Linked DNA regions of Homo sapiens: region 2 is linked to region 1. Evidence: fine-mapped expression QTL. A gene starts in region 1. The other region holds a variant in brackets. All regions are shown on one strand. Distances are from middle to middle.

Region 1 (16,074 bases):
AAGAAATGGTAGCTCAAAGAGTTTTGACCCAGTCTCATTACACTTTTCATTTATTTAACATAGCTTTTTTTCAAAGATACTGCAAAAGGAAACTGAAGCCCAAATTAACAAGGTGTGACTATCATAAAGAAAGCCATTTAATTTCTCTCTGGCTCATTTTCTTTTTTTTTTTTTTTTTTTTTTTTTTCTCCTGAGACGGAGTCTCGCTCTGTCACCCAGGCTGAAGTAGTGCAGTGGTGCGATCTCAGCTCACTGCAACCTCTGCCTCCCAGGTTCAAGTGATTCTCCTGCCTCAGCCTCCCAGTAGCTGGGACTACAGGTGTGCACCACCACACCCGGCTAATTTTTGTATTTTTAGTAGAAATGTGACTTCACCATATTGGCCAGCTGGGCTTGAACTCCTGACCTTGTGATATGCCCACCTCAGCCTCCCAAAGTGCTGGGATTACAGGCATGAACCACCACACCCAGCCTTCACTGTCTTCATATGAAGCCCCATATAAGATAAAATCTACATAAGAATCTATATTCTTTGGAAATTGGTGCTAGCTAAACTACGAAGTTAGTCTTAAAAATATGAGGAGTAGCCTAGAACAACTCTACATTGGTAACATTCATTTTTATTTACTGCTACGGGTTTTGCTCACTATCCCATCCACTGTTATTTATTGACTATATATTCTAATGCAGAAGATCAGAATTAGGTAGAATGGTAGATATTATCTGGCCCTCTTTTCAGCTAGAGATAAAACTAATTTTAATAATGGCTGCAGCTGGCAGATTGGAAATTCTAAGGGACATTGTATATTATAGCGCAGTATTATGAACTATATGGCCAGTGAATAAATTATTTCTGGTAAGTTAGGTATTTATGAAGGGTATCGGTATTCCCAGTCATAACAGGTACAACTGATGTACCAATATTAAATTACTAAATACTATTTAAAGTCAGAAAATGTTCATATTTCCCAGATGTCATAATTTGTCCCCCAAAGGATTACTGAAACAAAATCTGTGCAAAATAGAGAAATTAAGGTTTTCCAAAGTACCTATATCAAATCAAATTAAATGTCTTCCCACAGGCACTTGTATAAGAAGGATAAATGATACAAAAAAGTTAATCAAAATAGTTTCATTAAATATAACACACAACAAATTACTGTATTGATAGTGTTCATCATTTGCTAGAGTTAAGCAGATGACATACTACTAACTATTTGAATTTTGCCACTTGGGATATATCCTAAAGTACATTTTTTTAGTATCTAAAGATACTAAACAAAACAAACACATAACAAAATTGTGCTGTTATAGATTCTGGACTTGACAAATACTGTTGTAATTTATTTCCAATTAATACCTGATTTCAGGCCGGGCACGATGGCTCACGCCTGTAATCCCAGCACTTTGGGAGGCCGAGGCAGGCGGATCATGAGGTCAGGAGATCGAGACCATCCTGGCTAACACGATGAAACCCCGTCTCTACTAAAAATACAAAAAATTAGCCGGGATGGTGGCAGGCGCCTGTAGTCCCAGCTAGTCGGGAGGCTGAGACAGGAGAATGGCGTGAACCCGGGAGGCAGAGTTTGCAGTAAGCCAAGATTGCACCACTGCACTCCAGCCTGGGCGACAGAGGGAGACTCCATCTCAAAAAAAAAAAAAAAAAATACGTGATTTCAAAGAGCTCAGGTAAGAAGCAAAAAAAGTTCATTAGTTACAGAAAAATTTTTATTTATGATATTTGTGCAATTGTGTAACGTTTCATTTAGTCAATTTTGGTTAATTACAAAATGGAGACCAGCCTGGCCAACATGGTGAAACCCCATCTCTACTAAAAATACAAAAATTAGCTGGTCATCGTGGCGGGCACCTGTAATCCCAGCTACTCCGGAGGCTCAGGCAGAAGAATCCCTTGAACCCGGGAGGCGAAGGCTGCAGTGAGTCAAGATCGTGCCATTGCACTCCAGCTGGGTGACAGAGCAAGACTCTGTCTCAAAAATAATAATAATAATAAAATAAAATAAACAAAATGGAGTCAATACTTAATAGCCTATACTGACAAATCTTTCAAGTTGTGATGTCATGACAAAATATGAAAGTTGAAAAGTTATTTGTTTATTCTGTGCAGATAACGATAAGATAAATCTCCAGTAGGAACCCAATGATTAAGTTCAAACTTTAGGTTCAAATTGCAAAACAAACAAACAAACAAACAAACAAAAAACAGTGTGTCTATATTCAAATATATAACACTGGAAAATCATATACATAATTTAAACATTGGCCAATAGTTTAAGTCATTCTTGCCAACTCCACATGCTCCATCATTAAGAGCTCATCAGCAAGCCTCTCAGAGTCAAAAATCAGTATGTCTTAAACTATTAGCTTAGTTTTAGAGTTAAGGTCCCTATCCAGGAGGTTAAGTAAAGACAAATAAGTAAAGAATAACAATCTTTTTCAACTATTGAAGAGATAAATCTAGTACATCTTCTCTGTCAATTAGAGTGAATGGTTGTATAATTTTTTTAACACAGAATAATAAATCATTACTAATCACTTAAGAGTAAGAGCACTACCACAATTAAGAGATTAGTTCTACCCACGAACTTACTGCTGGTCTCCGAGGTTCTCCAGGCAGTTGTGGAGGATAAACAATTTTATTCTTCTTCTCCCATTTTCGAGAAATGTCAAGAGAAGCACTTGTGTGGATATATGATTGAGGTAAAACACTGTGAAATGAAAGAAGCCTATAAAACAACAGACACTTAGGGGACCTTTCTGTAGAGTTTACATATCTTTTGAACCACTTCAGCTCCATTTTGATGAAAACAATTTAAGGATCACAACTGGAAATATTCTAGAGGTATTCATTAATAGAGACTACTTTTAAACACAACAAAGAGACAGTTTATTAGAGGCTAACAGGAGAGAAAGTAAACGCACATAAGTCAAACCGTTAATAGATATTAACCCAAGATTTCTTGCCCTGACTGGCCAATAACACTGTCTTCTATAAGTCACCCACTCCTAAGAAAGATTTAGAGAAGACATAATGAGCTCTCTGATCTGACCTGTAAGATTGCCCAACTTTGTTGAGTAACTAAGACAAAAACACAAAACAATTAGAAGACAATATAAAACCACATAACTAAAATATGGGAAACAGCAGAGGATTTCAGAGGTGACTTCAGGTGAATCTTGAACTTCCTAATTGATATGGCTCGGCTCTGTGTCCCACCCAAATCTCATCTTCAATTGTAATCCATACATGTTGAGGGAGGGACCTGGTGGGAGGTGATTAGATCGCTGGGCAGTTTCCCCCATGCTGTTCTCGTGATAGTGAGGGAGTTCTCATGAGATCTGATGGTTTAAAAGTGGCAGTTTCCCTGCACTGTCTCTCTCTCCTGCTGCCTTGTGAAAAAGTTGCCTGCTTCCCCTTCACCTTCCCCTATGATTCTAAGTCTCCTGAGGCATCCCCAGCCACGCAGAACTGTGAGTCAATCAAACCTTGTTGGTTTATGAGTTACCCAGTCTCAGGTAGTATCTTTATAGCAGTGTGAAATGGACTAATACACTAATTATCAGAGGAATGGGGCAACGACATATATCATCTATGCAGAGGTACAGAGTTGAGAAATAAGGGGAGGTCTGACTGAGTCAGAGAATTTGTTAAGTATTGGAAAGGTCATTGAGGCTAGAGTGGTTGTCTTTGAATGCTAAACTAATAGGCTGAGACTTGATGATGAAGATCCCAAATTCACTATTCCTTGACCTCTTCCCCCACACTTTAACTGCTTTAATAATATACAACTAGTCATTCTCCCTCTCCCATTTTCCCCAGCATCCGCTACTCCCCTATATCACTAAATAAAATCACTCTTGAATGGTGTTCTAGAGTTTATCTTCAACTTCCCAATGATTTTCATCCTGCCAGAGCTAGTCACCAAATCTTACAGATAAAATAAAGATTCCCCTGAAATCGTTCTCAAATGCTTTACCTCTTCCCCATTCTAATTGCCACCATCCTATATAGCAATAGCCTCTAGATTGATTTCTCTTCCATCAACTTGCCCAATTCCAATCCATCTTTCTCTGCTTGAGTACCAAATGAGCTACCCTTCTATAATTCAGAGCTACTCATGTCATCCTCCAGCTTAAAAACGTCTATTGAAATAAGCAAATGAATAGTTATGTAATATTCTAATGCTATCCTTTTTTTTCAGTGTCACTGACTACTGGGATTCTTGGTATGGAAATAAGCAGAAAAGGTTCAGCCAAAATCCAATAAGTACTAGATCTCTCCACTGAAGAGGTGTAGAAGCAATGAACAATCTAGTAGCAATTAGTGCCCCTACTTCCCAGATTACGGTCTTGAAATACCATTTCCTATTGAAGAGAACCAAAACTTCTGAGAGAAATGGCTGATTGCAGATCTCAAGCAGATAACATACAAAATGAGCCCAGAACATCTTGTCATATCAGAAAGCAAAGAAGCCATCAAAGATTACCAAGGTCATGTCAAAGGCACTCAGGAGCCAACTTGTGGATGCCCAACAAGCCAAAGATGGGACAAGCCAAGCATTAATCAGGACAATAATTGTAGTGGGTTGAAACACATCAAATATGTTTAAAGCCATAAGTTCATAATAAAACCAGGAAAAATACAAATTAATTACCATTAGAAAATGCTAGTGAGCCAACTTGTTATTTTGAAAACTGGTGAATGAAGAGAAAGAATGAAGAAAAAGACAAGACTTATCCTGTCTTTCCTATACAAACTGTACCATTAAGTTTCCAAGTAGTAGATGAGGAAAAATTTGACTTGTATAAAGTTAGTAATGAAGGAATAGCAAATTATTATAGCATCATCTTATAATCCTTAATAAACTAATGGATAAAGGAGGCATTATGTGCCTCCTTATGGAAGAACACACCACCCACCATCCACAAAGTAGTCTTTCCTGCCCAAAATGAAACTGGGGGCTCAAGCCCCTAGATTCAAAATAGGAAACACAGAGAAAAGACAACATGTTACGTAATATCATGGGGATGCACTCGGTAAAATCCAAGGTATAGAAAACGCTACAAAACAACCAATTGTCTCCAACAAATAAATTACAAGAAAAAAAAGAGAGGGTTGAATAAAAAACCTACAGAGTAAGAGATTTAACAGAAATATCAATTAGTTTCAATGTGTGAACTATTATAAAGTATGACAGTTACGAAGCCATTGGAAGTTTAAATATCAAATGGATATTTAATGCTTTTTAATGAGATAATAGTAAAATATTTATGAAAATGATACAGTGGGGGGAGTGTTTCAAAATATGATGAGGGAGAGTACAGGTTATAAATAACATTGGCCATAAGTAGTAAGTGTTGAAGTTGGGTGACGGATACATGGAGGTTCATCAAACTGTCTACTTTTGTATATGTCTGGGCATATCCAAATAAAAAGTTAACACAGCAAACTTTGGTATTTCCCTACTGCCCACAATACGAAGTCCAGACTCTTTAGCGAGACATAGAAGGCCTTTCATAATCTAGACCCAATCTGCCCTTATAGCCTAGCCACATAGATGTTCATTGTTCCCTGAACAAGCCTTTATTCAAATTGTTTTCTCGTCTTATTATCTCCTGAATGAAATGCTTATCCTGTTTTAAGTTCTAGCTCAAATGTCACCTCAATGTGAAACATCACCTAATCCCTTATCTGATCATGATTCTCGCGTTGTCTTAATACTTTGTTCTTGCCAGCCATACAGCAATGACTTAGACCACTGTACTATCGTAAGTGGCTATAATAGAATGAGTTATTGTACTAAGTGTACAGATGTTGAGCATTTAAAGGGCAAGTCCGACTTTCTTTGTATTCTAGCACCAAGAACAATGTCTGGTACGTGGATACTGCGTAAACATTTAACTCAGACTTATATACTCAAAGTGGTTGTATATTGGCATATTCTCATACAAATATGCAACTTGGATGATTTACTTGGCAAACAAAACCTTTGTTTTTAGTCTTCAAGCCATTTAGACCAAAGACTCAAACAAATCTATTCTAGTGTATCATTTTTACCCCAAGTTCACTATCTCCTATCCTAATATCAAGATTAGTGCCATCAAAATACCTAACAAAATCAATACCTTTGCCATCCACATTTAGGTTCCAATGTCTTAACTGAAAAGCACAAAATTAGGATACATGATGTATGAAGGCCTATTTTGCTAAAATAAGCCGAGTGGTGACAGCTGAGGCTACAGAGTCGAGCAGACCTTGGTCTAAATCCTAACTCTAATTTACTAGGTGAATGGCCTTGGGGAAGTCATATAATTTTCTGGGTCTCAGTTTTCCCATCAGTAAATAGACTAATAATAATTACCTCATAGCCTTCTTAAGAAGCTCAAATGCAAGTAAAATACTTAACCTGACACTTAAAAGGGCTCAATAAATTTTAGATATTATTACTTGTAGAATGAGGAAAATAATACTTACTTAATACTGTTGATGGATTAATAATTTAGTGCATCCTACAATGTCTAGCCCATGATAAACACTGATGGCTAGTGTTATTTTTAAATTAGGCCCTTTGGCCAAGTATGGTGGCTCACGCCTGCAATACCAGCACTTTGGGAGGCCACGATAGGAGGACTGTTTGAGGCCAGGAGTTCAAGACCAGCCTGGGCAACATAGCAAGGCCTTGCCTCTGTTTTGTTTATTTTATTTTGAGACAGAGTTTCACTCTTGTCACCCAGGCTGGAATGCAATGGTGCGATCTCAGCTCACTGCAACCTCCGCCTCCTGGATTCAAACGATTCTCCTGCCTCAGCCTCCCAAGTAGCTGGGATTACAGGGACGCACCACCGCACCCCACACCTGGCTAATTTTTGTATTTTTAGTAGAGACGGGGTTTCACCATGTTGGCCAGGCTGGTCTTGAACTCCTGACCTCAGGTGATCCACCCATCTCAGCCTCCCAAAGTGCTAGGATTACAGGTGTGAGCCACCACACCCGTGTTTCTTTTTTTAAGGGCATAAAAAATAAAACAAAGTTAGGCCCTTTGAACAGTTAATCTCTCCTGTCCCCAGCCCCCAAATAAGTCCTGTGAACTGTAAGCTTTAAATACACAATTTCAAAGTTTTTTCTCAAGTTTATAATCATAAACGTTTATGGTTCTATGTAGTTGTAATTAGCGAGTAGGGTACACTATGTTTGTCACCTCTTTGGACCTTGGTTTCTTTGTCTGTGAAAAGAGGAATTAGACTACATCATCTATAAGGCCTCTCCTAACCTTAATTCTATCTCTAATCTCATCACCAACAGCATGACAGAAACATGAACCCCTTTGCTACAAACCAATCTGAAAGATTTCTTGAGTCAGGCCCATACCTGCTGTACCCGCCTAGCACAGTACCTTGCGCTCTTCAAATCTTCAATACATATTTGGTGAATTAAATATGTTGCTTCATAAATTAAACATACTATGAATTAATAATGTCAAAGCTTTCTGAATTCTTATAATACTTTCAGGACTCAAATAATTCATGAACTGAATTATCAAGCAAAGACCAAACTACTATAATCAAATTAAATTAAAGTATTATTCCAAATGGGGTTCTTAATTTAGAAGCACAGAATATCAAATCAAAAGTTCCTATGTGCCCTCTCCTGGCCAATTGCTGGAATAACACTCAATTAAAACAAAATGAAGCAACCTTAAAACAGAAAATACAGACAAATTCTAATTCTAATTATCAGTCCTCATCTGAGAGTGACCTAAGTATCTCTGGTCACTCACTCTTCCTTGAGACACTTTCTTTAATTGGGTTCCAGGACACTTGGGGTTTTCTTCTCCCCTCTCTGGCCACTCCCCCACAGTCTCCTTTGTTGTTTCCTTGTCTCCCTCCCTGGTCTGTAATATTGGCTGCCTTAGGCAGGAATCAATCCTCGGACTCTTTCTATCTACACTCACTCCCTTGGTGAAGTCAACCAGCTTTGCAGCTTTAAACATTATCCATGCATTGATGACTCCCAAATGTACATCCGTTCCCTGAACTCTATAAACTCATATACCCAATTGCCTACTCGTATCTCTACTTGGATGCTTACAACAGCTCAGATTTAACAAACCCAAAAGTGACCTACTAATATTCTCCCCAAACCTGCTCCTCTGGAAGTCTTCCTAGCTCAGTAAGTGGTTAACTCTACCCTTCCAGTTGCTCAGGTCATAAACTTTGGTGTCACCCTTCTTTCTCACACCTCCCATCCAATGCATCAACAAGATCTGTCAGGTGTGGTTAACATACTGCCAGAATCCAACCATTCACTTACCTTCACGGCCACCCTAATCCAAGCCACCATGATCTCATACCTGAAATAGCCAACGGTCTCTGCTTCCATCCTTGCTCCCCATCCCCACCCCAGTCTATTCTCAACACAGCAGCCAGAAAGAACCACTCATAAACATAAGTCAGATCATATAACTCCATGCTCAAAACCTTACAACAGTTTCCCATCTTGCTCAGAATAAAAGCCAAAGTATTTACAAAAAATAATAAGGCTCTATATGATTTATGACTGCCCCTTCCTCTCTGACCTCATCTCCTATCACTATCCCTCTCCTTTTTGTCATTGTTCCTGACACCAGATATGGTTCCTTGGAGCTGTTGCACTTACTATTCTATCTGCACAGAATGCTGTTTGTTCAGATGTTAGCACAGCATGCTTCCTCATTTCCTTCAAATCTTTACTCAAAGATTATCTTTTAGTGAGGCCTTCCCTATCTAAAACTACAAGTTCCTCTCTCAAACACACATACTTCTTATTCTCAATCTCTGCTTTATTTTCTCATAAGCAGATGTCACTATCTAATATACTCTATATTTTACTTATTTTGCTTATTTGCCCCCCTTACTATATTGTACACCCCACAATGGCAAGGGATTATTGTCTGTTCCTGTTCCCTGCAAAATCCTCAGTGCTAGAATAGTTCCCAGCTCAGAGCAGGCACTAAATACATATTTGTAGAATCAATGAAAGAATACAGAGACAGGTAAGGTAAGAGGACTGAGTGTAAATAACTATGCCAAAATTTTACACATGGTTGGAAACTGAGGAAAGCTTAAGAGGATATGCCCCCATCTAAAGGGTGGTACAGACAGGCTTGGTGGCTCACGTCTGTAATCCCAGAGACTCGGGAGCCTGAGGTGGGAAGATCACTTGAGCCCAAGAGTGCGAGACCAGCCTGTACAACATAGTGAGACTCTGTCTCCTAAAAAAAAATATTTTTTTGGCTGGGCGTGGTGGCTCATGCCTGTAATCCCAGCACTTTGGGAGGCCAAAGCGGGCGGATCGTTTGAGCCTAGGAGTTTGAGACCAGCTTGGCCAACATGGTGAAACCCCATCTCTACTAAAAATACAAAACTTAGCCAGGTATGGCGGCCTGCACCTGTAGTCCCAGAAAATATTTTGTTTAGATCCTCACTTTGACATTTAACTGTGTAACCTTCAGTAAGTCACAAAACTTCTCAAATGTATGCATCAGTAAAATAGGAGACTTGGAATTCAAAAACTGAAAACTGTCAGTCAGCTAACAAATATAGCCTACAGAGTAATCCCAGCACTTTGGGAGACTGAGGTGGGAGATTACTTAAGCCCAGGAGTTTCAGACCAGCCGGGCAATATAACAGGACTTTGTCTCTACTAAAACTCAAAAAAAAGTCAGGTGTAGTAGTGCACGCCTGTGATCCCAGCTGCTTGGGAGGCTGAGTTGGGAAGATGGCTTGAATCGAGGCTGCAGTGAGCTATGATCATGATACCGCACTCCAGCCTGGGTGACACAGCAAAACGCTGTCTTTAAAAAAAAAAAAATTTTAATATCTATATATATATGTGTGTGTATATACATGTATGTATGTGTATATATGTATATATATGTGTATATATGTATATATGTGCATATATGTGTGTATATATATATATATCCTGCAGAAATGTTTTATTTGGTCAGCAGCAGTTTTCTTAACCTAATTCAATGTTTTTAGATGAGGAATACACTCTACTGACCACCACAGGCCCTCCCACTCTCATTTTACATAGACAACTTCCCTTAGTTTATTTATTTCTAGTCTGGGGCCTATATGCAATTAAGTTTCCTGGCGGCTCATGCCTGTAATCCCTCCAGGCCAAGGCAGGAGGATCACTTGAGCCCAGGAGTTAGAGACCAGCCTGAGCAACACAGCAAGACCCTAAAAATTAGCCAGGTGTGATGGCATGCACCTGTAGTTCTAGCTACTTAGGAAGCTGAGGTGGGAGCCCGGGAGTTTGAGGCTGCAGTGAGCTATGATCACAGCACTGCACTTCAGCCTAGGCACAGAGCGAGACCGTGTCTCCAAAAAAAAAAGGAAAAAAAAGTTTCTCATCACTGAATCAGATTATATGCTAAAATTTTACATGGTTATCATGAACATTATTTATACCTTTCTACTTAGTTTTCTTATGGTCATTTTCCCCACTAGAAAATCCAAAATAAGGATTCACAAAATTATGTAATAACTTCAGAATTGCAAATAGCCTTAGAGATTATCTAGCAAAATCAAACACTCTTGTATCATGACATAGAGGAAAAGACTAAAGGCAAACTGCTTAAGTTTCTTGCTCAGAGCTTCTTAATACAAGTTGGTGCAAGACAATTCAAATCAACATCAAAATACTTGCCTGTGTAAGACCTTATGCTGGAGGTACAACAATAAATAAATGTCCCTACTTCTCCAAGATACACAAGCTAGTAAAGGGCACATACACATATACATGAAGTCATCATAGAAGGCACACATGCTAAAAGGAAGGAAAAACTAATTTCTTTCCGTTTTAGAGAAACCAGTGAAAACTTCCTGAAGGGAAAACATCTGAACAGAGGTTTGAATAATGGGTAGGACTGCTGTTATAGACAAGATGTGAGGGCATAGTAGGAAAAGCCAAGAAGCAAGTAAGTGCAAAGTATATTCAGAAAAAGTAAGTAAATCAGCATGGTTGGGGGAAGAGTGATAGAAGATTATCTAAGAAGAGTACAGACAAATCCTAAGAGCTACTACTTCCTATTTTCTTCTTTAGCCCACCTCTTTATCCCCCTCGGACCCAAAAACTTAGAAAAGGGTTAAATATAATTGGGAACTCAGTAATAATTTATAATAATAAAAACATTAATGGCAACTAGAATTCAGAGTGGGATTATCACATGCCATAAACATACTAAATACTTCATATGCATTATCTTGTTTGAATTTCCTTTTTAAAATCTACTAGAGCTACATAGATGGCATGTGCCTGTAATCCCAGTACTTCAGGAGGCTGAGGCAAGAGAATTGTTTCAGCCCTTAAGTTTGAGACCAGCATGGGCAACATAGCAACACTTCATCTAAAAAAATAAATAAATAAAAATTAAAAAATTTTTTAAATCCTAAGAGATAGGTACTAACATAACGCTCATATCATAAAAGTGATAACTGAAGCTTATTAAGAATAAGTAACTTTTCCAAGATCACAGTTAAAAAATGGATTCATATACAACTCATCTGTCTGCAAAGCCTATGAACTAAACCAAAATCAATGCTAACAAATGGACAGACCAGAAAATTTACAATCAGATTATCAATTTTCAAATACCGATTTTTTATTTTGGGGAGAAATACAGCGACTACTTACCCTAACCTTTAATGAATGCTTTTGTCCTAAGGCTACAGAATGCTCTGGTATAAAGCTTCAAAATTTCCTACAACTGAGTGGCCTTAGGCAAGTTATTTTACGTTTGGGGACTTCAATTTCCTTGTCTGAAAAACGGGTATAGCAGAACCTACTCGTAGAATGTTATGAGAGTGAGTTAAAGCATATAAACCGCTAAACACAATGTCAGGTACGACGTAAAGCAGAGTTGTCCACAACACGGTCCCTGCCCATGTAAGCAAGTAATCAGAGAGGTAACTTGAAAAGTTGGACGCTTCCATATGGAGATGGAATAGTCTAACCTTGTCCAGAAAGATCACAGTAGACGTTCGGAAATCGCATTTACAATCGCCCTTGGGTTATGGGTAATCCTGATCCCTGTACAGTTTATGCAATAAGGTGGAGAAAAAATAGAGTGACAAAGCAGAGACTCGGGCTGTCTCATTCGCCTCAGTAACCCCAGAGCCTAAAACACAGTTAGGCACGGAGGCGCTCAGTTACCAACTGGCAGAATACTAAAGATGCCTTGGGCCCTTCCGAAACTCCGAAGCGAGAGACTCACCCCAAGGCCAGCTTCCCCCGGCTCCTCAGGTTATGTATCCATAACGCACCTGCAACATCAACACAAGCCGTCAACTCAGATTCCATCTCGACTCCCTTCTGTCGCTTAACCACTAAGAAATCCTTACCCAACTGTCCCAGTACTGCCGCCGCCATCTTTCGCCCTCCCGCTACGGAAGCCGCCGAGTTCAAGCGCCTTCTGGACAGCACGCATGCGCAATACTCTGGATTTCCTGTGGGGCTCTCCCACAAGCAGTACTTACACCCCAGGTGCCGTCACGAAGATCGCAAGCACTGGGCCGGCGCTCGAGGTGTGGTCAGGCGAACCTGGCTTGGGAATGAATTAATTAATAAAGGCCGAAAGCACGTGGGCTTCCGAAAATTCACCTGGATTCAGAAAAACTAAAGTCCCAACTCACAAACTAGAAAGGAGTAGGGGAACAGAATCCGTGAACAAGCCACCTAATCCGGTGGTCCTCAGTTTTCTTATCAGAAATGACTAACCTTAGGGCACAAGCTTGTTGTAAAGATCAGTTGAAATAGTGTGAAAGCTATTTTATTTCATTTTATTGAAACAGGGTCTCTCTCTCGCTTAGGCTGGAGTGTGGTAGCAATGACCTAGTCTCACTGCAGCCTCGACCCCGGGCTCAAGCCACCCTCTTACCTCAGCCTCCCAAGTAGCTGTGACTACAGGCGCACATCACCACGCCCGGCTAATTTTTGTATTTTTTATAGATAAGGAGTTTCCCCAAATTGCCCAGGCTGATCTCGAATTCCTGGGCTCAAGCAATCTGCCCTCCTCGGCCTCCCAAAGTGCTAGGATTAGAGGTATGAGCCACGAAACCTAGCCTAAAATCTCTTTTAAAGAGCAAATAGTTCAAATATGATGTATGCTGTCCTAATCCCTACTAATCTGGTTGACCTTCAAGAATGAGTTTATATTCATCTGGCATTTACTGCCTTATGTCAGGCAGGTATTTCACTAAATCTCATTTATTCCTCACAGCAATCCAACAAGGCATGGATTATCATTTTCCTTCTTCAAATGAGGAAACATATTTAGGATATGTTAAAGTCTCTCAACTAACAACTGGCAAACCAGTGATCAATCTACGACTAGGTGCCTCCAAATTTGTGCCCCTAGACGCCTTCAAATATATGTATTTGACCCCTCTGTATTAGAATAACAGGTAGTTCAGATTGCGGTTTGCTACCTATGCAGGAATGTCAGATACCCAATGCAAACAAGCAACACACGAGTAGTGCAGAATCTGAGCATTTTAGCATTTTTGAGTTGAAAGGAAACTTTCTTCCACACCATTTACCACATACAGCTTCCTTCACACAGCTGGCCCTCAATCAAGCAAATCAAGAGTCACTCCATTTGCTTCTCCTTCATCTTTGAGTACCCAGAACCCAGAGCCAGAATTTCCACCCAGTTGCAGAAACTGTTCTTTCCCTTTTTAATTCCAGATTCGTACTTTCATATTTTTGTTTGTTTTGTTTTTTTGAGACAGGGTCTCACTCTATTGCCCAGGCTTGAGTGCAGTGGCTCGATCACAGCTCACACCAGCCTGTCTCCCGGACTCCATATTGTAATGCCCAACCTTGTTTTTACTAACCCTGTTTTTAGACTCTCCCTTTTTCCTCTGATCACCTAGCCTTGTTTCCACTTGAATTGACTCTTGCTTAGCTAAGAGAGCCAGACAGACTCCATCTTGGCTCTTTCACTGGCAGCCCCTTCCTCAAGAACTTAACTTGTGCAAGCTGACTCCCAGCACATCCAAGATGCAATTAACTGATAAGATACTGTGGCGAGCAATATCCGCAATTCCCAGGAATTCGTCTGATTGATAGCACCCAAAGCCCCCAGTCTATCACCTTGTAATAAATAGTCTTAAAGCCCCTGCACCTGGAACTGTTTACTTTCCTGTAACCATTTATCCTTTTAACTTTTTGCCTACTTTATTTCTGTAAAATTGTTTTAACTAGACTCCCCTCCCCTTTCTAAACCAAAGTATAAAAGAAAATCTAGCCTCTTCTTCCGGCTGAGAGAACTTTGAGCGTTAGCCATCTCTTGGCCACCGGCTAAACAAATGGACTCTTAATTCGTCTCAAAGTGTGGCGTTTTCTCTAACTCACTCAGGTACAACAATATTTTTGTTAAGTGGCCTCTTGTGCATATCTTTTTTTGTTTTGTTTTGTTTTTATTTGAGATGGAGTCTCGCAATGTCGCCCAGGCTGGAGTGCAGTGGCGCAATCTCTGCTCACTGCAACTTCCGCCTCCCAGGTTCAAGCGATTCTCCTGCCTCAGCCTCCCTAGTATTTGTTGTCTAGGGATTGTTGCATTTTACTTTTTTTTTTTTTTTGAGATGGAGTCTCGCTGTGTGGCCAGGCTAGAGTGCAGTGGCGTGATCTCCGCTCACAGCAACTTCCGCCTCCCGGGTTCAAGCGATTCTCCTGCCTCAGCCTCCCGAGCAGCTGGGATTACAGGCGCCTGCCACCACACCCGGCTTATTTTATTATTTTATTTTATTTTTGTTTTTTAATAGAGACGAGGTTTCACTATGCTGACCAGGCCGGTCTTTTAACTCCTGACCTCGTGATCCTCCCGCCTCGGCCTCCCAAAGTGCTGGGATTACAGGCGTGAGCCACCGCACCCGGCCTCTTGTGCATATCTTTAAAACACCTCCACAACTAGCAAAGTGCCCTGGCACATAGCGCTCAAAAAACGTTGGACGGGATAGTGGTTGAACAGCTCCAAATAATAAACTGGTAGCCTGGGGCGGTGGTTCCACTAGTCTAATCCTCTAATTTTGTGCCTTTCTGTGGGAAGTGAGAATGCTTAACCTCGGGGCTGTGCTCAGGCAGCACCTGACCCTAGCCAGGGTTGGGGCGGACCTCCTACCGCGGGCTAGGTACTGAGGGCCAGTGCAGCACGCGTGGTCCCGCCCTTCCCAGCCCGGCGGTAGCGGGAACGCAACGCGCGGTGCTGGCTGGGCCTCGACGCGCACCGTAGCGACTGCCCGAGAAGGCGGGGCTCGGAGTTCACCCCGCCCCGCTCCCTACCTAAGGCGTGAGGCTACGAGCGGTCGGCTGTGGCAGCTTCTCTTGTCTCTGACGGCTTGTAGTTATGGGGCAGGAGCCGCGGACGCTGCCGCCCTCCCCCAACTGGTACTGCGCCCGCTGCAGCGATGCCGTGCCCGGGGGCCTCTTTGGCTTCGCCGCGCGGACCTCCGTCTTCCTTGTCCGCGTGGGCCCGGGCGCAGGCGAGAGTCCAGGGACACCCCCGTTTCGAGGTAACTCACCACCCTTGGGCCCGAGACTTACTGCCCTTTGTACGCTCCCCAGGGGCGCCGAGTGGACGACTCCACCCCGTTTTCTACAGCTAGGGAAACTGAGGCCCAGGCTGGGAGGAGAGGCAGCCCACAGTCACTAAGCTGAGTTGCTTCTGGTCTCCTAATGAGCTACACCATGCTGTGGCCGAGCGGTCCCGCCTCCTGGAGCTTCCACGTGGGGCCGCTTGCTTACTGAAAAGTTAGCCTTGTATAGTCTCGGCCATTTATATGGCTCCCCTGCCCAGCCTGGTGCGCGCCAGCCCCCCGGGAGCCTTCCTGGGGTTGGGGGCTAACCACAGCTGCAGGCCCTAAGCAAGATCCTGCAACGTGTGGCATTCCTTACTGTAAGATGAATGGGTTGAACCAGATGCTTTCAGGCTCCAAACTAGGCTTTGATTGTGCCTTAGGATATGACATGCCAGGTGATTTATTCTGGCCACATCTAAATAAGAG
Region 2 (16,074 bases), 260 kb after region 1:
ATTTAATAACTTGGAAAAATGGTGTCAATATATAGTATTTTTCTTTTCTGAATTTAATTTTTTATGTAAAAATTTTATAAAAGGAATGCATTAATACATTCTCACAAAGATTCACCATATAATGTTAAGTGAAAAAGGGCAAATCAAGGGCAAAAGAAATATGCTTCCAATGTTGTTTTATTTCACTTTTGAACCAGGGTCTCATTCTGTCACCCAGGCTGGAATGAAGTGATGCATTCATGGCTCACTGCAGCCTCAACCTTCCAGACTCAAGAGATCCTCCTACCTCAGCCTTCCAAGTAGCTAGGACTACAGGCATGTGCCACTAGCCCTAGCTAATTTTTTTTTTTTTTTTTTTTTTTGAGATGGAGTCTTCCTCTGCCGCCCAGGCTGGAGTGCAGGGGTGTGATCTTGGCTCACTGCAACCTCTGCCTCCTGGGTTCAAGTGATTCTCCTCCTCAGCCTCCCAAGTAGCTAGGATGACCGGCATCCACCACCACACCTGGATAATTTTTGTATTTTTAGCCAGAAAGAGACAGGGTTTCACCATGTTGGCCAGACTGGTTTCAAACTCTTGGCCTCACGTGATCTGCCCACTCAGCCTCCCCAAGTGCAGGCTTGACCCACCTCGCCTGGCCTGCCCAGCTAATTTTTTTTTTAAGATGTGAACTTTTTCATTCTTCAAAAAGAGAATGTATTTTTACATAAATCTATAACAGAATTCAAATGTAGAAAAAATAAACTATATTCAGGGATAGAGTGCTCAGCACAGCACACCCCCTCCCCGGATGAGACTGCAGGAGCCTCGCCACCCCCAGGACACCCAACATCAGGGCAGCCACAGGCTGGCACATAGAGCTCCCTGTGTCTGTCACAACAGGCTGCAAATGCAAGGGGCCCAGACCCGAAGCATCAAAGACAAAAACCAACCCATTTCACTGTGGCAACTCACTTCTTGGCCTAGGTCACTCATTTGTACACCTACTCAGAAAGGGAGGCACAGGGAAACTGAGGGACATGCATCTCCAGATGCCTCGGATAATCCCCTACTCACTTCTGCCACTAGAGGACCCCCAGGAGAGCCCACCTGACAAACCCCAACTTCTTCCCTGGGCCAGTGCAACCAAAAACCTGCAGGATTCACCCAGGACTCCAGGCCCTGACAAGAGGCAGAGCTGGCTGCAGCTCGACTAATTAAAAAATTTTTTTTGTTGAGACAGGTTCTCTCGTGTTATCCTGGCTGGTCTTGAACTCCTAGCCTCAAACTTTCCTGCCACCTTCGCCTTCCAAAGCTCTGGCATGAGTGCCCAGCCTCCCAACTTATATATAAATACAGGCCGGGCGCAGTGGCTCACGCCTGTAATCCCAGCACTTTGGGAGGCCGATGCAGGCAGATCACGAGTTCAGGAGATTGAGATCATCCCGGCTAACACGGTGAAACCCCGTCTCCACTAAAAATACAAAAAATTAGCCGAGTGTGGTGGTGGGTGCCTGTAGTCCCAGCTACTAGGGAGGCTGAGGCAGGAGAATGGTGTGAACCCAGGAGGCGGAGCTTGCAGTGAGCCGAGATCACGCCACTGCACTCCGGCCTAGGTGACAGAGTGAGACTCCGTCTCACAAACACACACACACAACACACAAAAGTATAAATACACTGAAAAAAATAAACATAAGGAAATCCACCAACATGTTAACATGTTACATCTGGGTGGGAAGATTACTACAGATTATTATCTTCATCTTTATTTTTCTATGTTCTCCAATTTTTTTTCAAATGCTGCATTATTTTTATAAACAGAAGCAAGCTACAATATTGTAACAGAAATATTGAAGATTATATTTGAAAATATTCAAGGCTAAACAAAAGCAAGTTAGATATCACCTATGTGTCCGCAATCAGAAACCTTTGAGACTAAAATTTAGCCTTTTGGAAGCACCGTCCATCTTCCCCCAGACCCACCCCTGCCTCTTGGCAAAATCACAGCACCATGCTGTGACTGAGGGGTCGGTCTAAGAGAGACAGAGACTGATTTCTCTCTAGGAAAGGCTCATGCAGAGCTCTCTGCTTCCTTGGTTTCCAGAACTTCACCAGCCTTCTTGGCCTGAAGTTCCTTCTTCTGAAGTCAGGCATGGCTCTGCCAAGGGATACTTGGACAGTGATCCATGGGACTGGAGAAGACCCCTGCAATCCCTGCAGTTACCAGGTTACTTAATTAGCTGGCATTTAAGGGTCTGTAGGATCTGAACCAATCTTCCTTACAACTCCCATGTGTGCCAATCAAACAGTCTGTCGGCCATCTCCAAAGCCAGAAAGGGACAGTAATGAGTGAAGAGAGCTGGGTGTGATGCAATTGGGAAAGGTAAGGACTGTGGCAAACTGGAGTAAGCCCACACCTTCAAAACGAACGGCCACTTCTCAGTGCCAGTCTATTGCTACCTGGTGGGACCTTTCGATTTTTCAAGAGAATTGGAAAATCTGGATCTTTATGTGAAATCTCCTGATTTTAAAATAAATATTGGCAGGTAATTCACAAAACATATTTGGCCACTCTGCTGATCACAATTTGTGACTTGTCTTAGGAACACATTGAACTTTTTTCCCTCTGCACCTTTGCTTTTGCTATTCCCAATGCCAAGAACACTCCCCCACCCATCTAAGTCTAATGAACTCCATCTGTTCCGTCAGACCCAGCCAAAACACCACCTCTTCCGGAGCATCCCCGCAGCCAGAAGTGACATCTCCCTCACTGGGGCTGCACCACACATTTAGCTCTGTGCCTGTCTCATCCTATGCCCACAGTTGTTTCAGTAAGAGTCTTAGCTTTCCTGGTACAGAATGAGCTCCTGAAATATCCAGAAAACATTTGTGGAGCACCTGCTATGGTGCAGGAACCGTACTAAGCACTAGTGATACAGCCTAGAACAAGATGGATATGTCTTTGCCTTGATGCAGTACAGTCTAGTGTAGGGGGCAGATTTTAAATAAATAACTCCCTAGATACCTAATCCCAATTGTGATGAGTTTTATGGGGTTAAGAAAGTTTATAAAAGAGACTTAATCCAGGCAAAGGAGGATTAACCGAATCACGAGGTAGCTTGGGGAAGCATTAGCAGTAGGGCTCCCACTTAGGGCTGTACAGTTTACATGCTGCACAAAGCCTGGCAACAGAGCAAGACCCCGTCTCTAAAATTTAAAAAAAAAAAAATTGTAGAGTTGAGGTCTCGCTATGTTGCCCAGCCTGATCTCAAACTCCCGGCCTCAAGTGTTTCTCCCACTTGGCCTCCCAAAGTGTTGGAATTACAGGTGCGAGCCACTGTGCCCGACCCCTTTTTCTAATCTGCACAAAGGCATCGTATAGACTAGCAGAGGCAGCGTTTAGTTCACCCCTATCCAAAGCTGCTTTAAATAAACTTAGAATCTAAGTAGATACGGTGACTTCCCTATGTACATGCAGCCCAAAGAGATGTTCCCTGCTCCCCACTTTCTACGCTAAACCCTTAGACTTCTGAGATCAGGGAAGGCACCCCAAGGAAGTAACATAGGAGCTGAGACTGAAGGATAAGAAGGGGCCAGCCAGCTTGGAATATGAGGAACAGCATGTGCAAGGCCTCTGAGGGGAGAAGGTACCATGGCCAAAGGACCTAATAGGTGGCCGTTGTGGTGGAAGCATGGACAGAGGTAGGAGAGCATTAAGGGGTAGGCTGGGCAGTGACCACCCTGCATGGCTCAGAAGGCCACATTAAGGAGTGCAATTCTTTTTTTTTTTTTTCTGAGATGTTGTCTCACTCTGTCACCCAGGCTGGAGTGCAGTGGCGCGATCTCAGCTCACTGCAACCTCCACCCTCCGGGTTCAAGTGATTCTCCTGCCTCAGCCTCCTTAGTAGCTGGGATTACAGGTGCGCGTCACCATGCCCAGCTAATTTCTGTATTTTCAGTAGAGACGAAGTTTCACCATGTTGGTCAGGCTGGTGTCGAACTGCTGACCTTGTGATCTGCCCACCTCCACCTCACAAAGTGCTGAGATTACAGGCATGAGCCACCGCGCCCAGCCAAGGGGTACAATTCTTATCCTGAAATACCTTCCATATCCCTTCCATATCCCACTCCCTAACCACGTCATTTCTGGGTTTCACTGCCCATGAGAGAGTGCACAATGGTAGAAACTATCTTTACAGAGGGCCTGCCATGAGGCACAGACTGTGCTGGGGTCATACATTCATTCTGCCTTTTTTATGCTCCTAAGGAAGTATTATTTGATTTCAATGGAACAGATGAAAAAATGGAGGCACAGAGAGGATGAGCAGCTGGCCTAAGGTTAGCTGACTGTTAAGGGGTAGGCTGGGATCCACTGTGAAGTCCACTGTGGGACTTCAAACCCCTTCTCTTGGCCGTCATGCAGCAATGGTACCCATGAATAGACCGGAAGCGCAAGGAGTGCACACCCTTGCTACTCAAAGGCAGGAGGGTCTAGGGGCCTGCAACACTGGCATCACCTGGAAGTTTGTCAGAAATGCAGGATCTTGGGTTCGTTCCATCCAGCCCTACTGAATCAGAATCTACAATTTTTTTGTGTGTGTGTGTGAAAGGGTCTCACTGTGTTGCCCAGGCTAGAGTATAGGGGCACAAACACAGCTTACTATAGTCCCCACCTCCTGAGTTCAAGGGATCCTCCTGCCTAAGCCTCCCAAGTAGCTGGCACAGGCCACCACGCCCAACTAATTTTTAATTTTTTTGTAGAGATAGGGATCTCACCATGTTGCCCAGGCTGGTCTCAAATTTCCTGGGCTCAAGCAATTATCCTGCCTTGGCCTCCCAAAGTGCTGGGATTACAGGTGTGAGCCATCGTGCCACGTCAGAATCTACACTTTACAGGAATCATGTACACATTAGGAGCTGAGAAGCACTAGACTAGAGAATAATCCAAGCAAAGTGGCATATTGCCTTTGTAGCCCTTATGCAACAGTGTCTCATAAGCCAGGTTTCCAATGACCCGAAAACAACTTCTTATAACCAAATATACCAGATTGGCCAACTGTTCCATTCATCTATCCACCCTAGTTTTGTCATCTATTTCCACTCCAAGGGAAAGACTGTGAGAAGCTACCATCAACTCCAAAGACGAGGTGCTGTATGCTCCAAATCATCTCCCATTTGAGGTCTACTCTGATCCCCAGATAATTTTCTGGAACACACTTTTCACAAAAGAATTCCCTATGTTAGCCTGCATACCAAAGGAGTCAGAATGGTTTGGTAGAAAAGATTAGTGGGTGAGGAAAAGCAGGGTTCCCCTTCAGCTTTAAGGCCACATGTGACTTTGGGAAATGCCCTACCCTCACTTCCTAATCCCCATGTAAAATATGAATGGGGTGGACTAGACTAGGAATCATTCCATATGAGGCCTGGCAGGAAACACAAAGGAAGTTCAGTGGCCTAGGTGAAACAGTAGGGAGTAGCGGAGACTGTGGCAAACTAGAGGGCGAGCAGGTAGGGAGGGTGCAATGCCCTGACTACACAAAGGTATCCCCACTCAGAAATAGGCTAGAGTTATCATGGGAAATACGTTGACATATATTCTAATTTTTTGAGTTGGGAATCTGATTTTCCAAGAAATGAGTGATGTTTAAGTATTGGCAACTATTAATAGTTAAAACTTCAGAACAAACAAACACAACACTGTGTGAGCCAAATAAATATCAGGTGCCGGCCAGATCTGTCCGTGGGCCGTCAGTTTGACTTGCCTGGCCCAGATGCCACCCTAATGTTAGGTATTAATTTGCATGTGCGGCTGAGAATGCTGCAAAGCGGCTCCTGTAAGGATGGGGGTTGAGGGGTAAGATCTGTGCCTTTCCGGGGCCCGTCGCCCGTCCCCCACCGCGGCCCGGGCCCCTTTCGGTGCCCCCTCCCCAGGCCTCTCCGGGAAAGGGCCCAGACGGTGGTGCCGGGTCGCACGGCGTCGCTTGCTTCACACCCTCCCTACCTGCTCGCCTGCTCTCCCAGCACGGCCGGCAGCGCCGCAGCAGCGATGACTCAGCCTCTGGCGGCGGAGCTGGAGGGAGGCGGAGGGGGCGAGGGGGAGGACGACTGGCAGGGCGGGGTAAAAGGAGGCGGGTGGAATGGAGGGAGGAGGGGAGAAAGAAAGAGGAAAAGGAGAGAGAAGTGGGATGGGGGAGGAGAAAGAGGAAAGGGGGAGAGGAGACGGGGGAGAGGCGGAGGTGGGAGGGGGCAGTTCGAAGCCCCAGCTCCCGCCTCCTCCCGCGGCCGGCTGAGGTTGGGCTGGGCTGGGGGAGGACAGTGGGGGAACAGCGGAGAGGGTAGGGCAGGGGCGGAGAAAGGAGGGTGGCGTGCTGCGCCCCTTCCCCTCCCCCACTTCGAGAGTCCCGTGGGTACACGTGGTTCATTGCCACACCCACGGACCCACCCCTGCCTCTGTGGGATGGGAGGGGCCGGGGAGGGTGCCCGGGAATGCGGCTTCGGACTCTGAACCTTTAGTGAGCGCCTTCCAGCGGAGGCCTGGGGGACTGGGCAGTCAAAAAGGGACAGAGGGGCCGGGCGCGGTGGCTCACGCCTGCAATCCCAGCACTTTGGGAGGCCGAGGCGGCCGGATCACCTGAGGTCAGGAGTTCAAGACCAGCCTGGCCAACATGGCGAAACCCCGTCTCTACTAAAAATACAAAAATTAGCTGGGCGTGGTGGCGCGCGCCTGAAGTCCCAGCTACTTGGGAGGCTGAGGCAGGAGAATCACTTGAACCTGGGAGGCGGAGGCTACAGTGAGGCAAGATCGTGCCACTGCATTCCAGCCTGGGCAACCCTGTCTCAAAAAAAAAAAGGGGGACAGAGAGAGGTGAGGGCTTGCAGGGGAGAAAGCAAATCCACAAGGCGTATCCGCAAGTGGAAATTTAAAGGGAGAAATGAGCCTACTCGATGCATTTTTGCTAGTCTACACAAGTAGCTATAACACAAGGTTGAATTTGGAAGTCACACCAAGGAAGTTTCCTTAGCAATGTTTTGTAATATAAATGATGAATGAATAAAATGTACTATGGGAGTACATCTGTGTGTATAGAAGAGGACAAATGGAATTTTTTTAAATGTCTTTTTGTATGTCTGTTACATATGTGTGTTTGGGTGAATATATAGGAGTGTATGTGTCATTGAATAATGTGTATATATGTATGCCTTATGTATGTAAGCACATTAATAGCTGTATATGAGGTCGTGTGCCAAGAATACATTTCTGTGTATATGGACAGGTGTGTATCTTTATATGCCTAGGTGTTAACTGTATAAGACCTATGGGCTTTCCTGAGTTTGTTTTAAATATGCATATTTATGTGAATTTATGAGTTTGTGAATGTGACAGCATATCCTTGGGGGGTATGTGTGGGGGTTTTTTGTGTGTGCCAGTATTGTATAAATGTGTATGTGTATACGGGACTCCTGTCTGAGATCGTGTTATGCTTGGATATTTGTGTGTGTGCATGTGTATGGTAATACATTTGTGATCAGTCTGTGACCAGGGCTACAGGGCATCTTGAGGTTGCATGTGTGTGTCTGTGTGTATAATTGAGAATGTATGTCTGTTTTTCAGAGTCTTTATGGATATGATTGTGTCTAGCATCTCTGTAGCCACCCTGTCGATCCATTTGTGATAAGGGCTATGTGATTCTTAAGGGTTGGGCTGGTCAAGGCGGCTCCTTGGAGGAAGAGGTTCTTGTGAGGTGGGGACGGTAGACACAGGAAGAAGTTGCATGTGTGCTGGCCCACTGAATAGACCACCCAGAGC[A/T]GCCGGAGGCCAGGCAAGCAAAGTAGGCTGAAACAAGACCAGGGAAAGCGCTGAATGCCAGAATGGGTAATCACGGCCTCTTCTGGCATCTTCCGCCCTCTCAAGCGTTGGATCAGTTTCTCTCATGGCCCTTCTCTGGGTCTACCTGGTCAGTGCTCTTCTGCAGAGTGCACATCCTTGGTAATGAACATGGCAACAATGGTGGAGCATTACTATGAGCCTGCCTGCAGAAAGCACTTAACAGGCAATAGGTCAGCTCTGTGAGGCAGAAATTTGGTATCCCCAGTTTTACAGAGGGGGAGCAGGAGATTAAGCCCTGTTGGTGATGCCCCTGTTGGATTCTGAGGCCCCATGCCCTCTCAACCACTATTGACGTTTTGGGCCAGATAATTCAGCGTTGCGGGTGGCTGTCCTGTGCATTGTAGCATAATTAGCAGCATCCCTCGTGTTTACCCAGTAGATGCCAATAGCACCTCCCTCTCCAGATATGCAAACCAAAATGTCTCTAAACATTTCCAGAAGTCCACTGGGGACAAAATCGTCTGAGATTGAGAGCCACAGCACTACACTGTCCTGCCTCCCCTCATGTAAGTGTTTTCTGAGGGGCTGCAACAACTCCACCTTGTCCAGTGTCTTCAGCTGTCCCTCTTCTTTCACGGTGATCTTCATGACCGTGCAGGTAGCCCCTTGTCTTTGCCACAGTCAACAGAAGGCTTACTAGCCGGGCCACCTTTCCTAGCAACTCAACCTCTCTGTCTCCCAGGCACAGAAGGCACAGGGCTTGGGGCCTGATAGACACCTCTATAGCTCTTATTATTATTTGAATCACAGGAGTTCCCTGGGGTCAGAGCCTGGAGGAGAAGTGCCCCGAACCTGCTGACCCTCTCTGGCCCAGAGCTGTGGACACTGCTGGTTCTGTGAGTTTGTTTTCCTGGTTGAGCAAGAACACCACACGATGGTGTTGGGCCAAAACTGGTCCCATTTTATGCTACTATATCTCCACTGCCCAGGCTGGAGTGCACTGGCATGATCACGGCTCATGGCAGCCTTGACTTTCCGGGCTCAAGGGATCCTCCCACCTCAGCCTCCTGAGTAGCTGCTTACTAGGCACATGCCACCATTCCTGGCTAACTTTTGTATTTTTGGTAGAGATGGGGTTTCACCATGTTGCCCAGGCTGGTCTTGAACTCCTGGGCTCAATCTATCTGCCCTCCTCCACCCCACAAAGTGCGAAGGGATTACAGATGTGAGCCACCGTGTCCAGCCATCTTATGCTGTTGCATCTTGGCAAATGAAATGGCCTGGCTTTCCCCTCTGGCAGACCCTGATTTTAATGAGCCAGTGCTGTGTTGTGACCACGGCAGGAATTCAGGAAGGGCAAGGCAGAGCTGTCAGCAGGGCTCTTGGCATGTCCAAACCCAGGCCTCAGCAGGGCGTCCATGCTGCTGCGGGACCCTGCCACTGTAGCAGCTCAGGGTCCTGGGGAGCAGGTGCTAGAGAGTGTGGTGGCTCTACCACACACACAAGAGGTCCAACACTCCCACTACAGAGAAGACAGACAGATGGTGGTGCTCACAGAGGACTCCATGCCACCGCTGTGTCTGCCACTTGGGAAAGTCTCTCCTCTGGACTGTTCCTTTACTGCATGACCTCACTCTGCCCCTTCTGTTCTCCTCAATCCCTGCAGTGTTCCTAGTGTTTACAGGGCCCTTTGCTCCATTCCTCCTGGGATGCTGCAGAGCAAGGTGGTTAAGGGTGAGGGCTCCTATACCTGATTACGTGAGTCTGTGTAATCTTGGGCAAAGCACCTCACCTCTCTGTGCCTCAGCTTCCTCATTTCTAAAATGGGGAAAAGTAAGAGGCCCTGTCTCTCAAGATTAAATGAGATAGTGCATGTAAAGGATGCTAGCCATGTGGTAAGCGCTTACTAAATAGCAGCCATTATTATTATTATTATTATTAGAGACAGAGTCCCACTCTGTTGCCCAGGCTGGAGTGCAGTGGTGTGATATTGGCTCACTGCAACCTCCACTTCCTGGGTTCAAGCGATTCTCCTGCCCCAGCCTCCCAAGTAGCTGGGATTACAGGCGTATGCCACCACACCTGGCTAATTTTTGTTTGTTTGTTTGTTTAGTAGAGACGGGGTTTCACCATGTTGGCTAGGCTGGTCTTGAACTCCTGACCTCAGGTGTTCCGTCCGCCTGGGCCTCCCAGGGTGCTGGGATTACGCATGTGAGCCACCACACACAGCCTAGTAGCTATCATCATTGCTATTCTTTTTTTTTTTTTTGAGACAGGGACTTGCTGTGTCGCTTAGGCTGGAGTGTAGTGGTGTGATCACTGCTCACTGCAGCCTCAACACTCTGGGCTCAAGGGATCCTCCTGCCTCAGCCTCCCAAGTAGCTGGGACTAGAGGCATGTGCCACCATGCCCAGCTAATTTTTTTTTTTTTTAAAGACAGAGTTTCACTCTTGTCGCCCAGGCTGGAGTGCAATGGCACGATCTCAGCTCACCACCACAACCTCTGCCTCCCAGGTTCAAGGGATTCTCCCACCTCAGCCTCCTGAGTAGCTGGGATTACAGGTATGTGCTACCACGCCCAGCTAATTTTGTATTTTTAGTAGAGACGGGGTTTCTCCATGTTGGTCAGGCTGGTCTTGAACTCCTGACCTCAGATGATCCGCCCGCCTCGGCCTCCCAAAGTGCTGGGATTACAGGCATGAGCCACTGCGCCTGGCCAATTTTTTTTTTTTTTTTTTAATTGTTAGTAGAGATGAGGTCTTGCTCTATTGCCCAGGCTGATCTTGAACTCCTGGGCTCAAGTGATCCTCCTGCCTTGATCTCCCAAAGTGCTGGGATTACAGGCATGAGCCACCACGCCTGTCTATTGCTATTATTCTTGAATAACAATAAAAGGAGAATGAGCTCTTACTAATTGCCAAGCAATGTGCTAAACTCTGGACGATCCTTTTCTTGTTTTGTCTCTTCAACAACTCTATGAGGAAAGTGCTATTATTAGCTCCGTAGCTGGGAAGAGGAAGCTCAGGTACAATGGTGTTAAGTAACTTACCCAGGGTGACAGAGCTAAGAAGCAGCAACTCTGAATCTGAACCAGAGTACTGCCACTGTGAAGTCTCACTATCTGCTCCTCTCCACTGAAAGCAGATTTCACCATAGGAAGGAGGAGCTTCTCTTTAGCTGGTTGTCCTGAATAGATGTCAGAGGCCTAGAAGAAGATTGTGTTGAGAGGACAGAACCCCCACATCCCTGACTAGAGCAGAAGGAGGGGTTTGGGCTCAAGGAAGTGAAGTATTTTTTTCTTTTACAGCTATTGATGAAACCACTTAGCACGGTAGGCTGTGGTCTCATGGACGGACTCCAAAAGGTATCACCAAGCGTTTTTGTTTTTTTTTTTTTGAGACGGAGTCTCGCTTTATCACCCAGGCTGGAGTGCAGTGGCTTGATCTCGGCTCCCTGCAGCCTCCTCCTCCCAGGTTCAAGCGATTCTTCTGCCTCAGCCTCCCTAATAGCTGAGATGATAGGCACGCACCACCACGCTCAGCTAATTTTTTGTATTTTTAGCAGAGACAGTGTTTCACCATGTTGCCAGGCTGGTCTCAAACTCCTGACTTCAAGTGATCCACCACCTCGGCCTCCCAAAGTGTTGGGATTAAAGGCATGAGCCACCACGCCTGGCCTTTTTTTGGTTTTGTTGTTGAGACAGGATCTCATTCTGTCACCCAGGCTGGAGTGCAGTGACATGATCTCAGCTCACTGCAGCCTTGACTTCCTAGGCTCAAGCCATCCTCCCACCTCAGCTCCCAAGTAGCTGGGACTACAGGGCGTGTGCCACCACATCTAGCTACTTTTTGTATTTTGGGTTTTTTTTGTTTTTTTTTTTTTCTGAGACGGAGTTCACTCTTGTTGCCTGGGCTGGAGTGCAATGGCGCGATCTCGGCTCACCACAACCTCTGCCTCCCGCGTTCAAGGGATTCTCCTGCCTCAGCCTCCCTGAGTAGCTGGGATTACAGGCATGTGCCACCACGCCCAGCTAATTTTGTATTTTTAGTAGAGACGGGGTTTCACCATGTTGGTCAGGCTGGTCTCAAACTCCCAACCTCAGGTGATCCACCCACCTCGGCCTCCCAAAGTGCTGGGATTACAGGCGTGAGCCACTGCACCCGGCCTAATTTTTGTATTTTTTGTAGAGATGAAGTTTTGCCACATTGCCCAGGTTGGTCTTGAACTCCTATGCTCAAGCAATCTGCCTGCCTCAGCCTCTGAAAGTGCTGGGATTACAGGTGTGCACCACCACCCCTGGCCTTGCCAAGTTTTTACTAGCACATAAAATTTATTTTTGCTACAATCCAGGCTATATATTGTTCTAGTGCTTTTTGTTGGAATTGGACTGTCAGAATGGTACAAAAAGGCATTCACTTGCTACAAGTCAGAGGATAGATGGGAGGCCTATTCTGGAGTTGATGCAGAAGAAAGGTGGTGTGTTTATCAAGAGCTGTGAGAAATTGTCCAGGTGAGTACATATGAGAGGATGGTTTGTAAGGAAGGGTTAGTTCTTCCAACCCATGTGCCAAAGGGGACAAAGGAGACCATGTGATAATTCATTTTTTAAAAAAATATATTCGAGGCAGTTTTTTTCCTTGTACTGTCATAATATAGTTATTAGTTATCTATTGCTGTGTAGCAAATACCCCAAACTTAATGGCTTAAAACAATACATATGTATTACCTCACAGTTTCAGTGGATCTGGATTTCAGGAGTGATTTAGCTGGGTGCTACTGGCACAGGGTCACTCACGAAGTTGTAACCAAGATGTCAGCCAGGTCTGCAGTCATCTGAAGGCTCGAGTAGGGCTGGAGGATCTGCTTCCAAGATGGTGCACCAACATGACTGTTGGCAGCAGGCCTCAGTTCTGTACCACGTGGACCTTTCTGTTGGACTTCTTTAATGTCCTTATATCATGGAGGTGAGCTTCCTCCAGAGCCAGGGAGAACAAGGTGGAGGCCACATTGTCTTTTATGCCTAGCTTTAGAAGCTACGCACTATTGTTCCTGAATATCCTGTTGGTAACACAGGTCAGCCCTGCTCATTGTGGGGAAGGACCATAGAAGTATGTGAGTACCAGGAGGTGAAGATCATGAGGCCATCTTGGGGGCTGGCTATCACAGGGCTCATCATTGCTGACTTGTTTACTATCATGAAAGTAAGTGGGCTGCAAGTACTGAAAAGTGGGCTGTAAGCACTCAAAAGTTGAGAGCTGCTCACTAAACAATTTTATTTACCTGGATTTGTCTGTGGTGTTCCCTTGGAGGCATGACTTTACAAGTCATGTAACCCAGGATGGGTTGAGTGTGGTGGTTCACGCCTGTAATCCCAACGCTTTGGGAGGTGAAGACAGCTGGATCACTTGAGCTCAGGAGTTCGAGACCAGCCTGGGCAGCATGGTGAAACCCCATCTCTACAAAAAAATACAAAAATTAGCTGGCGCAGTGGTGTGTGCCTGTAGTTCCAGCTACTTGGAGGCTGAGGCAGGAGAATCGCTTGAGCCTGGGAGGCAGAGGTTGCAGTGAGCTGAGATGGTGCCACCGCATTCCAGCCTAGGGAATGGTAGTGAAACCCTGTCTCAAAGTCACCCTGACTCCATCAGAAACAAAGCCCTGCAATCCTATGACAATGAAAGTGTATTACCTGTGCCAGGTGCCAGCAGGGAACAATGGTTAAGAGAGTGAATTTTGCAACCAGACAAAACTGGATTCAAATCTTAACTCTCCTATTCTTGACTTGAGGACTTTGGGCAACTGGCTTAACCTTTCTGAGCCTCAGTATTCTTGTGTGTAAAATGGATTAAGATCAACTTCACAAGGTCATGGGGGAGATGGATTAGAGGATCGCAGAGCTATGATAATGGAAGTCAGGTGCCCAGCCAACGTTGACCTATAGATTTATTATTAATAATGACAACAATAAAGTAATAGCTCACATTTATTGAGCTTCTGTTTTTGCCAGTCTGTGAAGTTTGGAGCAGTTAAGAGCCTTGCTCGCCAGGTATGGTGGCTCACACCTGTAATCCCAGCACTTTGGGGGGCCGAGGCAGGCAGGTCATCTAAGGTTGGGAGTTTAAGACCAGCCTGACCAACGTGGTGAAACCCTGTCTCTACTAAAAATACAAAATTATCCGGGGGTGGTGGTGGGTGCATGCCTGTAATCCCAGCTACTCAGGAGGCTGAGGCAGGAGAATCGCTTGAACCAGAAGATGGAGGTTGCGGTGAGCCAAGATCGCACCATTGCACTCCAGCCTGGGCAACAAGAGCAAAACTCCATCTCAGAAAAAAAAAAAAAAAAAAAAAAAAAAAAAGAGCCTTGCCCAAGACACACAGCTAGGAGAGCTGGGACTCAATTCTGGGTCTGTTTCCAAAGCTAACCTGTTTGATAACTTGCTCTTTTCACTTAACAATGGTCTATCATAACCTACATATTACATTGCCCCACCTTCTTCCTTTCTTCCCCCTTCTTTTAGCTATGTAGCAGTACATGAACGTACCATAATTAGTTAACTGTTCCTCTACTGTTGGATTATTGGTTTCTAATTAACGACAAGGTTTCCGTGAGTATCTTTGTGTCCAGAGCTCACAGTGTGCTATGCTAGGCACTTGATGCGTGTACTTCATTTAATCTTCCACCAGCCCAAGGATGTTCAGCTGGGAAATAACTCACTCAGCCTCTAACTTGTCTAACATAGAATGCCTTTTCAGGACTAAGAATCCCCTGCCTTCTCAATCCTGAAATTTTTCATTCCAATTGGGCCACCAAGGAATATCTTTCTTTCCTCTGCAGCAGGTTTATCTGAGAGACCAGGGAAGTGGGCTTGGAGTCTCCAAACTCAGGTTTAACAAAAGGATGGGCCTTGATAGGTTTTCACCAGGCTCATGGCAGCTTTGACTAACCAGACATGAACCTGTATCAGTCAGGATGGGCTGGGTTGTGCTGCAGTAACAACCCTCAAGTGAGTGGCTTCAAACACGCATTGTGGGACTGTTGTGTGCTCTGTTTTGTGCTGTCTTTACTCCAGGTCCAAGTTGATAGAGCAGCCACCAACTTGAACATTGCCAGTTGTCATTCCTGGAGCCAAGAGAAAATGTAGTAAATTGCACGTTGCTCTTAAAACATCCACCTGGAAGTGACACATGTTATTTCCTCTGATTTTTTTTTTTTTTTTTTTTTTTTTTTTGACAAAGCACATCACAGAGCTACACTTAACTCTGAAGAGACAGGGAAGTTCATCCTACCATGTACCCAGAATGTGGAGAACTGGAATATTTGATAAACAATACTAATGACCACCAAAAGCCTTGTCCTTTGCTAATCATTAAAAAAAAAATTGTCCACCAATTCTAACGACATCTTGGAACAATTAAGTCCAGGCGTGGCTTAACATTCTGTCCTGGAGGAAAGACCCTTCCATCTAAAACCCCTCTTGCCCACATCCTGAAGCCAGCTCGCCCTGAATCATGGGACCCTGGAGATGAGGAGAACAGAGGAGAGCAAGGTCAGGGAGATGGCTGGTGGATTCCACCGGTGACCATGGGCAGAGCTCTGAATTCTGAATTGTATTAGCCCACAGAGTAACTATGCATCTGTGTTGTGGGGTAGTGGAAAGGCCATCTGACTCCTGTGTGACCTTGGACAAGTCATCTGGAAAGATCCTAAATGCATCTCAAAGGGGAATGCAGGCTGGGCGCAATGGCTCACGCCTGTAATCCCAGCACTTTGGGAGGCTGAGGTGGGCAGATCACAAGGTCAAGAGATCGAGACCATCCTGGCCAACATATTGAAACCCCGTCTCTACTAAAAATATAAAAATTAGGTGGACATGGTGGCAAGCGCCTGTAGTCCCAGCTACTCAGGGTGCTGAGGCAGGAGAATCGCTTGAACCCGGGAGGCGGAGATTGCAGTGAGCTGAGATCACGCCACTGCACTGCAGCCTGGCGACACAGCGAGACTCCATCTCAAAAAAAGAAAAAATAATAATAATAATAAATAAGACTGAGGTGGGCGGATCACGAAGTCAGGAGTTCGAGACCAGCCTAGCCAAGACCCATCTCTACTAAAAATACAAAAAAATTAGCCGGGAGTGGTAGTACATGCCTGTAGTCCCAGGTACTCAGGAGGCTGAGGCAGGAGAATCGTTTGAACCTGGGAGGCGGAGGTTGCAGTGAGCTGAAATCATGCCACTGCACTCCAGCCTGGGTGACAGAGTGAGACTTCATCTCA

Which allele goes with the higher level. Alleles are on the strand shown, and positions count from the first base shown. SD is a standard deviation of normalised expression in the study named.
With allele T in place of A in region 2, the expression in prefrontal cortex of the gene that starts at base 12,477 in region 1 is higher (small effect, 0.39 SD a copy in BrainSeq).

What was found.
Region 2: its variant is fine-mapped to the expression of MRPL22 in prefrontal cortex (BrainSeq, PIP 0.95).

What each region holds. Positions count from the first base shown.
Region 1 is chr5:154,937,476-154,953,549 of GRCh38, reverse strand. It overlaps MRPL22 (mitochondrial ribosomal protein L22), which reads right to left and starts at 12,477. Exons shown (of 7, transcript NM_014180.4): 1 at 12,412-12,477; 2 at 12,285-12,333; 3 at 2,612-2,729. The coding sequence starts at 12,439. It overlaps GEMIN5 (gem nuclear organelle associated protein 5), which reads left to right and starts at 15,339. Exons shown (of 28, transcript NM_015465.5): 1 at 15,339-15,582. The coding sequence starts at 15,417. RefSeq lists enhancers at 12,378-12,537, 15,041-15,090, 15,481-15,660, 15,252-15,843.
Region 2 is chr5:154,672,942-154,689,015 of GRCh38, reverse strand. MIR1303 (microRNA 1303) reads right to left here and starts at 3,240; the gene lies at 3,155-3,240. It also overlaps a transcript of LARP1 not described here. RefSeq lists silencers at 5,748-6,227, 6,268-6,467. The variant A/T (reference allele first, on the strand shown) is at 7,785.